Linked DNA regions of Homo sapiens: region 1 is linked to region 2. A link means that fine-mapping ties the variant in region 2 to the expression of a gene that starts in the linked region. Tissue or cell type: pancreas. Region 2 holds a variant in brackets; the other region holds the start of a gene. All regions are shown on one strand. Distances are from middle to middle. Region 1 holds the start of PRDM6 (PR/SET domain 6). Region 2 overlaps PPIC-AS1 (PPIC antisense RNA 1).

Evidence for each region.
Region 1: it holds the start of PRDM6, and the variant in region 2 is fine-mapped to the expression of PRDM6 in pancreas (GTEx, PIP 0.94).

The regions. Positions count from the first base shown.
Region 1 is chr5:123,087,204-123,091,203 of GRCh38, reverse strand. It overlaps PRDM6 (PR/SET domain 6), which reads right to left and starts at 1,963. Exons shown (of 8, transcript NM_001136239.4): 1 at 1,685-1,963; 2 at 598-1,204. The coding sequence starts at 1,189. PRDM6-AS1 (PRDM6 antisense RNA 1) reads left to right here and starts at 888. Exons shown (of 2, transcript NR_146771.1): 1 at 888-1,132; 2 at 3,265-4,000. RefSeq lists enhancers at 2,224-2,768, 2,769-3,313.
Region 2 is chr5:123,037,137-123,041,136 of GRCh38, reverse strand. All of the region lies in intron 1 of PPIC-AS1 (PPIC antisense RNA 1), which reads right to left. Among named protein-coding and RNA genes, the nearest start is that of PPIC, 2.4 kb to the right of the region's middle. The variant G/A (reference allele first, on the strand shown) is at 2,373.

The DNA.
Region 1 (4,000 bases), 50 kb before region 2:
GCCTTCAAGGAGAAACGGACTCAGTTTCATCTAAAATTCCTACTCCAGTGAGGCCTGGCCAGCGAACAGCTCCCGCCGGTTCCCCCACAACCCCGCGGCCCGAAAATGACCCCTCCAGAGGTGGGGTGGAGAGTAGCAAAAACAAGCCCTGGTCTGCGTGCTCCCCAGAGACGCTGAGGGTCCCTCCCTCGTCCCGGCTAAGGCCAGGCAGGGCCTGACCCAGACACCCCCTGTCACACGCTGCCAGTACCCGCCTGGCCCCGGGCACTGTCCGGCGGGAGGGCAGAGGTCTGTTAGGCCGGGTCCACGGTAGACTCCGGCCCCAAACACTTGGGACTGTGAAGCAGGTGAGGAGAGGGAGGGAGAGGGAACCCCAAAGTGCCACCGGCCGTCCCATCCGTTCTCTTTCCTTCTCCAACGCCAGAAAACTTTTGTCACAGAGATCGGGGAGGCGCGGGCCAGCGGCCAGGACCAGGTGCTCCCCACCCACCCGGCCCCGTGTCACTCCTATCCGACCCGCCTCCCTGACAGGCACCCGCGCCCGCCGGCGCCGGCGCCGGCGCCCCGGGAGAGAGCGCGCGGGCTGCGGCTACGTACGGTTGTTGGGGTCGCTGGTGTGCTGGTTGAGCGGGATGATCTCCATGCGCTGCTGGCCATACAGGTAATAGTCCAGCTCCTCTGCGCTGCAGCGGAAGCGCGGGGCGCCGCGACCCTCCCCGCCGCCGCCGCCACCACCACCGCACTTGACGGGCCCGGGGCCGGAGGTGGCGCCGAGGCACAGTTCCTTGGGGGGCAGCGGCTCGGCGGCGACGGCAGCGGCGGCTAGAGGCGCGAACACCGGCAGCTGCGACACCGGCAGGGCCGAGAGACCAGCCAGCGCGGCGGCAGCGGCCGCAGCAGCGCAGGAGGAGGCGGAGGAGGCGGAGGTGGAAGAGGAAGCCGGCGTGGACGAGGCGGAGGAGAGAGAGGCGGGCCGCGGGCGCAGGCTGTCCGGCGGAGGCTCAGCGCGCTCCGGGGGCGGGGGCGGCGGCGGCGGCTGAAGAGGCTGCGGCGCGCTCAGGAGACCCGCGGCGCCGCTGCCCTTGAGCGGGCCTGCGCCTCCGTGAGGGAAGAGTTGCTGCCAGTGCTGCAGGTAGGCTGGGTCCACTTTGAGGAAGGCCGAACCGCCGGGGTCTCCGGGCTTCAGCATGTCCGGCGCCTCGAACTGGGGGCAGAGGGCAGGGAAGAGGGGGCGCGTGAGCTGGGCGAAAGGGGCCGGGAAGAGGGCCACTGGGACCCTGGAGAAAGTGCCCGAGCCGGTGGTTCAGCCGGCGGCCGCCCGGTTCCGCGGCTCCCTCTTCCCAACTCCGCTTGGGCGCAAAGTTTACTCCGAAGCTGCGGCGCCGCACAGAGGGAGCTGTGTGCACCCTGCTCTGCCTCCCCGATCGCAGCGTCCAGCTCCCATCCAGCAATGCTGGGGCCCGACAGGAGGGCGCTGCCCCGTAGAACTCGGCTGCAGGACGCAGCCCCCGCCCTCAGCCAGCGCCCGGAGCCGACCCGAGCCGGCGTGGCGCAGCGCCCGAGCCGCGTTGGCCTCAGGCGCCAGGAGGCAGAACAGTCTCGCCGCCCGCCCCCAACCTAGGACCACCAACCTTCCTATCTACCAAGCCCTAGACTCTTAAGTCCCAGACCAGCCTCACCTTACCTGAAAACTCGGTGCTGCCGGTGGGTGCGTGCGGGTGTCTCGGTGAGCGTGCGGGTGCGCGAGAGTGTGCGCCCTGCGTGCGCTACATGCCCCTGAGCAGCGCGGGAGGAGAGTCCTAGAGATTGTGCCGCCCGGAAACCTCCCGACCTGCAAGCGAGAAAATTGGGAGGCCCGCGGAGGGCGCGAGAGTGCGGACGGACCTGGGCGCCCGACTCAACCGCCGTGGGCTGCTGCGCTTGGCCGCTGCCGCGTCCTGGCTCCTTGGTTCCACGCTCTGGCAGCTTCCCGGCTGGACACGTGGGTTTTACGACAGCACAAAATAGAGTGAGTGTGTGTGTGTGTGTGTGTGTGTGTGTGTGTGTGTGTGTGTGTGTGTGTGTGTGTGTGTGTGTGAGAGAGAGAGAGAGAGAGAGAGAGAGAGAGAGAGAGAGAGAGAGAGAGAACGGAGGGGGGAGGGGAGGCAGGCCAGAAGAAGGGGAGGGGAGAGGGAAGAAGGAAGTTCTAATTCGGCCCGACCCACATCGCCAGAGCGCCTTTCCCGCACAAACTCCTCCGCCCTCCCATCCCCTGTTTTTTTGGCGTGACGTCTGCCGCTAGCCTGTTGTCTCTTTCTGCCCATGATATGTCTTTTCTGGGTCCCAGCTCAGTGCCCTGATCTTGAAAGCAGTGGAAATGCGGCAACGGGAATGCATCTCCGCACACGCTGTGGTGTCCGCGCTGGAGCAAGCCCGCGCCGCCAGGACCGGGTTTGCGCTTTTGCCCGGCTCAGTTTTTCCTGAAGTGCTTCTGGGTGCCAGAGTCCACTCGCCCGCCACGCAACCTCTAACATAAATCCTCCGGGGAGAAAAGTTGGGGGCGGAGCGGGACGGGTTGCGCGCTGCAGTGAAACCCTCTGTCTGCAGCCCAGGAGGGAGGCTTGTCGGTGCAGGGAGGCGTAGGACCGAGGGTCCTGAGACCGAGAGCAGCTGGTCCTGGAGGGACTCAAGCTTGGCCGTGGGGCTGGGAGGCGGCTGCAATGGAGTCTGCACTCCACCCAGCGCTCTGCTGACCCCTTCTCGGGTTGTCTTCTGGAGGGCTCTTTCCCTCTCCTTCTTGGGGCCCGGAGACAAGTATCCAGTGTTACGTCTGGTGGCACAACTGCTCCGGGACACGGGCGAGGCTGTTTGCGGTCAGCTGCCTGCGGCTGCCGCAGGAGGTCACGCATAGGTTTCTCTACCCAAAACCTGGTGTTAGAGGGGCAGGGTGGGAGTGCAGCCCCACCTCCACCATGTCCTCTCCCCAGACTTTGTGCCAGGGCAGCCCTTCGATGCAGTCTCGCACCCACGAAGGAGGCACTTGCCCCCCAGCTCTTCCTGGCATTTTCGGTAGTAGATGGTAGAGGGCACAGGCAGGGTGTGTGAAATTGACCGACTCAGGAGGTACTTTCCCATCGCCGGGGTTCTGGCCATACCGTAAAGAGAAGAAACGGCATTTATCTTTTTCCAAACAACCTAACTTATTTAGCACTTGCCAATCTGAGCAATTAATAGCCATTCTTTCCTGATTTCTGCTTGTTTCTTTTTCTCTTCCCACCACTCAAGTTTTCTGAACCTGGGAAACGTGCTGTTCAGACTTCATCCGGGTCTCATTCAGGATGCTTCGATGTTGGTTGGAAGAGAGTTAGACCGAAAATGTTTTGACTGGCGTCGTTATGACAAGGTCATCCGTCATTGTTGGATAGATTGATAGCACCCAAGTTTAAGGCAGACACCACGAGGGAAAGCCCACGGCGCTGTGGTCCCGGAGGCTAACCAGGCAGTGTCCGCAGACCTCCAGCAACTCCATCGGGAGGAGAGGATGAAGTTCCAGGCCCGTTTCAATTAATCTGCTCGCAGAACTGCCGAAGAGTGGCTTGTCGGGCCACGGGAGAAGAAACAAATGCTCTTTCTCACACTCTCCTGGTTCATTGCTGAGAAACCAGGACACTCCTCTGTTCCCTGGGAGAGACAGTGAACTCCAGGGATGGAAGTCCGGACTCCGGCGGCGGTCCCGTCATTTGCCTTCTTGTTTCTGCCCAAACCCAGCTAGTTCCAAGCGCTTGGTCCCCAAGACTGGAAGTCCCCAAGAACCTACCTCTACCTGTCCCAACCCTGCCTCCCCCCTACCCTTTCACCCCCTGCCACCATTAGAAAGTCTCTGGATTTTGAAATGCTAGTTGCAGCAGCTGCTTCCGTGGCCTCATGCCGCCCACACTCTGGGAAGCGGAGGAGGGAGGGTTCCTCTCGTAATAAGATTAGCTGACCTGTTAATGAGAGTTTTGGACGTGCCGGGCGGGGG
Region 2 (4,000 bases):
TATAACACATGGGTCAAAAAAGAAATAAAAATATAAGTTAGAAATTATTTTCAAAGAATAATGAAAATATGACATATCAAAACGTTCAAGAAGTGCAAGGGGAACTTTATCATTTTAACTGTATACAGAGTACTATATAAAAAAAGGAAGGGCTTTAAAAATTGATGAGTTAAGAGTCTATCCAAGAAGACAGAAAAATAACAGTAAATTAAACTCAAAGAAAGCAGAGAGAAGGAAATAATAAAGTTAGAACATAAATTAATAAGATAAAATATATTGGATTCATCAGCTTCCTTGGTGAAACTGTTCAAGGAAAACAAGAAAAGAAACAACCAATGTCAGGAATGAAAAAGAAGACATTACTACAGGTCCCGCAGACCTACAAAATCATTAAAAAATGTTTTAAACAACTTTATAAAACAATATTTTAAAATATAAATAAAATGGATATATTCCTTGAAAAATACTTCAAGTAAAGGAACAGAATAGAGAATTTGAATAATCTCCAACTATTTTAAAAGTTAAATATATAATTTAGAATGTTACAATAAAGAAAACTCCAGGCTCAGATGGCTTCTAAGAAACATTCAAGGAAGAAATGGTAATCTTACACAAACCCTTTAAGAGTAGGGGAAAAACAGCTACCATTTGCCAACTCATATTAAGAGGCCAGAACAACTCTAATACAAAAGCTGAGAGGAAACTCCAATAAAGGAAAATTTCAGGCTAGTCTCATTCAAGAATTTAGATGCAAATATCCTGAAAATAAGATTAGCAGATTTACCCACTAACACTGAAATGACATGTGGGTGACGAACTCAGTCTCAGCTGGACAGCCAGAGCCACATTTTACCCACTCTTTTCTTCCTGAACTTCAGAAGATAGTCTATATTCAGTTTTTGGCAACTTTGTTAATAAACTGATATTGCCAAACCACATCTAGTAATATATAAAAAGGATAATCCATGTTGGACACATTCCAGAATGTAAGCTTGGGTTAAGATTTGAAAATCAATGCAATTCATCACATTAACAGAGTAAGAGAATCACATAATTATTTCAATTGATTTCAATAGATGATGTTAATAAAATTTAAATCAAATATATGCTAAAAACTCTTAGCAAACAAGGACTAGAAAGGAATTTTCTGAATCTGAAAAAAGATATCCCCCAAAAGGACCTTCAGCAAATATCATGCCTAATGGTGAAACACTGAAGCTTTCCCTCTGACACTGGGACCAAGACAAGGTGTATGAGCCCCCTAGGGCTGCTGTAACAAAGTGCCACAAACTGGGTGACTTCAAACAAGAGAAATGCATTGTCTCACAGTTCTGGAAACTAGCAGCTGAGATCAAGGTGTTGGCAAGGCCATGCTGTCTTTGAAGGCTCTAGGGGCAAATCCTTCCTTGCCTCTTCCTAGCTTCTGGGGGTTGCCAGCAATCTTTGGCATCCCTTGTCTTGTAGATACAGCACTCCAATCTCTGCCTCCATCCTCATATGGTGTTCTCTGTGCGTGTGTCTGTGTCTGTTCCCTTTTTATGAGGACACAAGTCATATTAGAGTAGGGCAAACCCTACTCCAGTATGATTTCATCTTAACTTGATTACGTCTGCAAAGGCAGTCCAAATAAGGTCACATTCACAGATACCAAGGTTTAGGACTTCAATATATCTTTTTGGAGGATAATTCAGTCTACAATACAAGGACTCCCACTGTTGCCACTTCCTTTTGTACTGCAGATCCCAGCCAGTGTAAAAAGGCCAAAAAAGAAATACAAAATGTAAAGATTAGAAAAGAAGAAATAAAACTGTCATTATTCATGGATGACATAATTGTCTATGGAGAAAATCCTAAACAATTCACAGATAAATTATTAGAATATGTTTAACAAGGTTGGTATATACAAAGTTAATATATAAATTAATTTTACTACAATACATGACAATAGCATAAAAAAACACTTAGAAATCAAACTAATAAAATACGTGTAAGACCTCTGGGCAGAAAGCTATAAAATCTTATTGAGAGAAACCAAAGAAGACTTAAATATGCTATGTTCATGAATTAGAAGACTCAATATTGTAAATTTGCCAAGTCTTAAATGGTCTACAGATGCAGTGCAATCCCCATCAAAATCTCAGTGTGTGGAAACTGACAGGCTGATTCTCAAGTTATATGGACATGGAAAAGCTCAAGAACAGCCAAGAATTTGTTGAACAAAGCTAAGAGGGTATGTATTACTGAATATGAAGAGTTATTATAAAGCTATTTTAATGAAGACAATGTAGTATTGGCACAAAGACAGACAAATAGGCCAATGGGACAGATAGGGTGCCCACAAACACACCTATGCATACATGGGCACTTGCTCT[G/A]TGACAGAAGAACAGTATGGAGCGGTGAGTTAAAGGGGAGAATTTTCAATAAACTGTACTGAAATAAATGAATATTCTTATGAAAAAAATGAATTTGCTTCCTACTTTGTATTAGCCACCAAAATAGTTATATGCAAAAATATAGATGAATTTCACAAAAATTTAAGCAAAAAGAAATACATACGGTAATACCCTATTCAAATAAAATTAAAACAAAATTAAACTATAGTACAAGAAAAGTCAGGATTGCAGTTAATTTGGGCAGAAAAAAGTGTTTGTAACTGGCAGAGGGTATAAGAGGAGTTTCTAGGGAGCTGGGAAAGATTTCATTTCTTTGCCTAGAGGGTGAGATGGTGGTAGCATAAAAAGTAGTTGGACACATTCATTCATTCAACAAATAGTTATTGAGAAATCACTATATATCAGGCATTGCACTAGATCTGGGTCATCAAAGGGGAATAAATATAGGCCTGATCCCTGCCCTGGCCCTGCTTACTTCTGATAGCAGACAGACAAAAACAATTAATGAACACAGATAAATATATACAATCACCTCACAGTCACCTCGTAGGGTAAGTGCTCTGAGAGATACCCTTGTCTTGCTACACAAGGGGGACTCTTTCCTTATTGGGGGTGGGGATGAAGAGGAAAGCCATTAGGTCTTTCACTGGACTGAATCATAAAAATAGCTCAGAATTGCATTTCTCCTTTTTCTCACCCCAAAGAAGTAGTGGTTACTCCTTTTATCTCTAATGGTTCCAATGTCATTTTAGATCTACACTTAGGTACACCTAGGAATCCCATCTGACATTTAGAAATTCCATCTCTTAATCCGAGGAAAATCTTGGCTTGAAAGTAATGGCACCAGCCCCTTAAAATGGCACCTATGTGCGAATACCACTAATTTTTAGTTAATTTTAGGGCTGTTACTCTAAAACAAAAAAGTTCTTTTGAAATTCTAATTCAAAAAGCAATGAGTTTTAAAATAACCCTTTCCATGTTATAAAATACTTATATGCTCATTGTAGAACATCTGGGAAATCAGAAAACTGTAAAAAAAATTTTTTTAAACCCTCAAAAATCCATAAGTCTATCAATAGCTATCAATTCTATCTATAGCTACTGTAAACGTTGTGGTACATCTCTTTCAATATTTAAGTGCCTTGATATATTTATTTTCACGGTTGAGATCAGAATTTGTGGTTTTGCAACCCGAATTTTCCATTTAAAAATATAATAAGAACTTACTTCCCCAGTCATTAATCTTCCTAAACATAATTCTTAAGTTTGTAAAAAATCCATCCTACAGATACACCTAAAAGTCAGTTTATTTACTTTGTTTCCCCAGGAAAGAATCCTACATGACCATGGTTCTGGGCCTGTGTAAGTGCTGCCTTGTGAACAGTGTAGATAAGATCACAGAATCATCCTCCAAATAAAGTACTTAAAGCCAATGTAAAAGTTTTTCGAAGGCAAAGGGGCACTGTGAATCCAGCATTTTCCAGTGTTCCCTAGACGTGAATCATCTCAAAGAGAGGCCATTATTCGAGTGCAACAGGGCTCCACGCCTCCAGCGATGTCAAAGTTCTGCTAAGCGTCCAAAACCTAGCAAAAGGTTCCAATGGGCC